2 separate regions of the Homo sapiens genome follow, and region 1 is linked to region 2. Evidence: fine-mapped expression QTL. Tissue or cell type: whole blood. Region 2 holds a variant in brackets; the other region holds the start of a gene. All regions are shown on one strand. Distances are between the middles of the regions.

Region 1 (2,500 bases), 340 kb after region 2:
TTAGCCACACCTGGTGGCACTCATCTGTAGTTCAGCTACTCGCTTGAACCTGGGAGGCAGAGGTTGCAGTGAGCCGAGATTGTGCCAATGCACTCCAGCCTGAGCAACAGAGCGAGACTTTGTTTCAAAAAAAAAAAAAAAAAAAAGTCATCTTTATCACCAAGCCTCACTCCTGCTTCCTGCTACCAAGGATCTGTCCACTTGACCTCTGACCTCTGACATCCCTCACCTCCATGTGTCGGGTCCATTGTACCAAGTCCGGGGCTCTGTGCGTCTCAGTGTTTCCTGTGAGGAGGGATCAAAGGCACAGTCAACAGGAGGAATTGGGGTTCTGCAGACCCAGAGGCATCCTGTGGTCAGGAAATGCTTTGTGTGCTCAGCAGCTGCCCTCACCCCAACCAGCCAATATCTAGTATCATGGTTGGGGCTACTAGAAGGGGAAGTTGCTGTTGCCAGTGGTGAGGAGGCCATAGGCAAGCAGGGGGCCTGGTGACATTACTGGGAACAGGGCACTCAGGGAATGGGAAGCTACTCCATTCACTATCTGGGGCTAAACAGTCAGAAGGATAAGGCCAGGCCACAGCTCTGACATAGCTCTTTTCTGTTCCATCTTCCAGCTGGGTGGCTCTGGGCTGAGGCCAGGGTCTACCTTCCTTGGCCTCTCTGGACAGCAGGAAGGATTGGCATCAGGCAGTTGGAGCCTTCTCTCCATAGCGCATCTCTCCCCGCCTCCCCCCCACTTGCCTGTGCCTTCTGCACCCCCGAGGGCGGCTCACCATCTCCACAGGGTTGGCGCTCCCGCTCCCCTCCCAGCCCTTCTGTCCTCTGCAGACGCAGACGGGCCCCGCCTGGCTCCATGGTGCGGTCTCCAGCGGGCAGCAGGCAGCCCTTGCCCGTGTTGCCTCCTTCCTTCGCAGTGTGGCCTGCCCTGTAGAGCTCTTGTCCCACTCAGCTCAGGTGACAGCTCCAAAGACTAAAGTCCTTTCAGGAGGAGGGGGCCTCTGGGAGTGCGATAGGTTATCTGATCTGGAGGCAGAGCTTCTCAGATTCAGACCTCACTCTGCTGTCTGTCGCAGGGATCGCCACATCCCCCTAACACCCCAACCACCATCCAGATGCCCAGCTCCAAGGGTGCTATCCACCCCGCCACACACACACAGGAATAGTGGCTGGGTACATCTTGGGGAGGGGAACTTTGCCTCTCAGAAGCTTGTCACCTAGCATGGCTGGCCTTCCAGTCTCTCTCCCAGCAGGCTGAAGGTCAGGGAGGAGTCAGAAATGTCTTCATGTATCAGTGCGTTCAGCTCGCTTTCACCACAAGGTGTGTGATTGACACATGTGGTAATATTCTGATGGGGTTGGCACTGTGCTACTCACGGAACTGGGGCCCCTCCAGGAAAGGCTGAGTGTCAGGGCCCCTGAACTGACAGGGCCGCTTCCTGACACCTGCTTGGGTGAGCATGTAGGCAGAAAGGAGACTAAACAAACACGTATTCAGCACCTAGGGAATACCAGGTATTGTCACATATGGAAGAACCGGATGCAAACCTCCCTCTGTCATTTACCAGCTATATAATTTCAGGCAAGTGACCCCAAATTTTAAGCCAGTTTCCTCCTCTGAAAAATAGGGGTAAAAATCCCTATATCACAAGGTTATCGTAAGCTCAAAATGAGGTTGTCCAGGTAAAATCACATGGTTCAGGGCCATGGGATGAGCTCATATATTAGTAATAATTTCCTTCTTTTTTTAGTAGGAAGTAACAGAAGGGTATGTGCTTTGAGAGTTCCTCTTTGCTGGGTTCCTGCTGGGATTAACTATTAATCCTTCCCCTCCCTTTGTGTCCAAAGATCAGTGTTAGAAACAAGGTCACAACTTCAGATTAAGGCCATGATCTCAGTGTCTCCCCTTCCCACTCCCAACTCCTGGTGGGCAGCTCTGTGAGGCTTGATGGCTTGAAGCTTCTGCCTGGCTGTCACAGGAAGGACTAAAGGTATCCACAGGAAAGGAGAAATGCTGTGAGTGAGCTGTAGTGGGGTAAAGAGAGGGCCAGGGATTCCAGAATTGTGAGAGGCAGACACAGAGACACAAGCCAGCGACCCCAAGCACAGCTTTATTGACACCCCAGCCAACACCAACACTCTTTCCAACCAGCGGTGAGGGGCCCATGGGGCGGGGCCTGAAGGTGGATTGAGGGCCTCGGTTTTTTGTTGAGTGATGACAGCTCCATGTTCCTTCCAGTGGCCCTGCAGCCCCTCTATCCCCCAGCTTTAGCCGCTACTCCCAGTGGGGCAGGAGGAGCTTCCATTGCCATCTGGAGACCCTGGCAGGGACTTGCCCATCCGATCCACACACCAGCAGGGACCTCGGCGCTGCCCCTGGGAGGAGCGGCACTGGAGAGAGAGGCACACAGGTCAGGAGTGAGGCCAGAGGCTTCCAGCAGGAGAATGAGAGGGGACATCTGAGTCTGAGGATGTAAAAACACCTGAGCGTCTCCTCGGG
Region 2 (2,715 bases):
AATGGATTAAACCATCCTAAATTATCACACGGAATTTAAAAAATTTAACATATTGCCTTTGGAGCAAATTTCCAACTTTCTTTACCTGAATCGATGCCTAGGCAAGGAATAAATTACAGGCACAAGCATAGTATAGTGCTAGGAAACAGCTGTTACCTTTTCAATGCTTATTCATTAGCTGCGTGCAAAGTCCTATGATTTTAAGAAATTGGATTCTACAAATCTAAGAAAAGACAGTAGAAACAGCAGTTGTATGTGCATGTATCTCTACTTTTTCCCAAGCACAATGGGAAAAAGTGGGGAAGGTGTAAGAAAAGGCTGGGAGTTCTATTCAAGGTTCCTTAAGCATATACTCCCAGCAATGCTAGTTATTAAATAAAAACATTTTTCAGTCTCTCCAGGGTAATTTCTCCCGCTTTTCCCCACTAAATCTCAATTCTCTTCGGTTCTCTTCAGACCTTTTTTTTTTTTTTTTTTAGACGGAGTTTCACCCAGTTGCCCAGGCTGGAGTGCAATGGCATGATCTTAGCTCACTGCAACCTCCACTTCCTGGGTTTAAGAGATTCTCCTGCCTTAGCCTCCAGAGTAGCTGGGATTACAGACACGCACCACCATGCCCAGCTAATTTTTTGTATCTTTAGTAGACAGGTTTCACCATGTTGGCTAGGCTGGTCTTGAACTCCTGACCTCGTGATCCGCCCGCCCCGGAATCCCAAAGTGCTGGGATTACAGGTGTGGACCACGGCGCACAGCCTTCTCTTCAGATTTCTATCAAAGACCCAGAATCAGGAATTAGAATCCACAAGGCAAATAAATACTGGGCAGTTAAATGTAAATGGAGGCCTCATCAAGATGCAGATTGGTTTAATCCTTCCAGAGTTGTCCTCAGAGTTGCTTTTATCCTTGCTATTTTTTGTTTGTTTGTTTGAGATGGAGTCTTATCTGTCACCGAGGCTGGAGTGCAGTGGTGAGATCTGGGCTCACTGCCATCTCTGCCTCCCGGGTTCAAGCAATTCTCCTGCCTCAGCCTCCTGAGTAGCTGGGATTACAGGCATGCGCCACCACACCCAGCTAATAATTCCCAAGTGCTAGGATTACAGGCATGAGCCATGGCACCTGGCCACCCTTACCAATTTTTAACACTCCTCTAAAACAAAGATACTTAGCCTTGGAGCTGAGTATAAAACCTCCTTAGGGCTGGGTGCAGTGGCTCACGCCTGTAATCCCAGCACTTTGGGAGGCCAAGGCGGGCGGATCACAAGGTCAGGAGATCGAGACCATC[T/C]TGGCTAACACGGTGAAACCCCATCTCTACTAAAAATACAAAGAATTAGCCGGGCGCGGTGGCGGGCGCCTGTAGTCCCAGCTACTCGGGAGGCTGAGGCAGGAGAATGGCGTGAACCTGGGAGGCGGAGCTTGCAGTGAGCCGAGATTGTGCCACTGCAATCTGGCCTGGGCTAAAGAGCGGGACTCCGTCTCAAAAAAAAAAAAAAAAAACCTCCTTAGTCCTAGGCTTTGTTAGAAGCCTAGTCACTGACTGCTCTTGTCCTCACTTTTTCTGCTGGATGATAGGGCAAAGGACCCATGTAATTAACACAACGCCCTAAGAACACTGATGAAAGAGAGAAGGAACTTCTGGAACTAGGGACAGATTAATTCTGTTAATTATTATAAGACCTTGCTTTGTCAAAGGAATGACTTTGGTATTTTGACAATGTCAGTGGGCGTGTCCAACTTGCTAGAATATGCACCTGGCGGGAGGGGAGCAAAAGTTCTGGGAGAGTAGGGCAGAAAAGATTTGGCTTTTGATTCTAAAATCCATTCTAAGGCTCACCCTAACTCCCCCCAGATAGGAGAAGCCTGATGTTTATTTTCAAGATAATCAGATTCTTCCCAGTAGCAATCTTTTATAAAAAGGAAGAATCATCTACCAGAGCGACACAATTGTCATCCCTCACGTCCACAGAATGTGAATCCCCCTCACCCAACCCCTGCCTACCTAGTCCCTCTGAGGGGGGACTCCTTCCCTAGCCAGTCTCCAGAGGGTACTGACCTTGCCATGCTTGTGGTACTTGTGGTGCTTTTGGTGCTTGTGCATCTTTTTATGAGCTTTCTTCATTTTCTTCTGCATCTTCTTGTCTACTATCACTGCTGGTCCAACCATGCCAGGAGCCAAGGGATTCACAGGAGGGATTCCAGGGGCAGGCGGTGGGTATGGAGGAGGGTAGGGACCCAACGGTTGGCATCCTGGATACCCTGGCTGTGGCACAGGATGAGGGGGCCCACCTGGGGGGAAAGCTGGATTGCCATGGGGAGCTCCTGGGGGAGGAGGACAGGGGCCTGGGGGAAAGGGTGGATTAATAGGTGGTGGGTGGGCAGGATTGGAACCTCCAGGGCACCCAATATTGGGGGGATATGGATTTGGCCCTGGCTGCCCTGGTGGAAGAAGCAGAGAATAAACATTAGAATTCCCCAGAGTCTCCAACAACAAACAACAAAAAGAAAGAGATTCTTTCTCACTCAATACTTAAAGGGAAACGGAAAGATGACAAAGAAGAATGGAGGGTAGGGGAGACAAACTTGAGTTGGGGAGAAAAGGGGGAATGTCCCTGGAAGGGCTAGGGAGAGGAGGGAGACAGTGAACTCTGAGGAAGACAAAAGCACTGGTCAGTCCAGGCGCGGTGGCTCACGCCTGTAATCCCAGCACTTTGGGAGGCC

The links. PIP is the estimated chance that this variant, and not a neighbour inherited with it, causes the effect.
Region 1: SOAT2 starts here. The variant in region 2 is fine-mapped to the expression of SOAT2 in whole blood (TOPMed, PIP 0.95).

What each region holds. Positions count from the first base shown.
Region 1 is chr12:53,101,936-53,104,435 of GRCh38, reverse strand. SOAT2 (sterol O-acyltransferase 2) reads right to left here and starts at 950. Exons shown (of 15, transcript NM_003578.4): 1 at 777-950; 2 at 230-285. The coding sequence starts at 858. It overlaps IGFBP6 (insulin like growth factor binding protein 6), which reads right to left. Exons shown (of 4, transcript NM_002178.3): 4 at 2,096-2,391. The coding sequence ends at 2,269. RefSeq lists an enhancer at 840-1,368.
Region 2 is chr12:53,443,109-53,445,823 of GRCh38, reverse strand. PRR13 (proline rich 13) reads right to left here. Exons shown (of 4, transcript NM_018457.4): 3 at 2,051-2,433. Among named protein-coding and RNA genes, the nearest start is that of PRR13, 2.7 kb to the right of the region's middle. The variant T/C (reference allele first, on the strand shown) is at 1,283.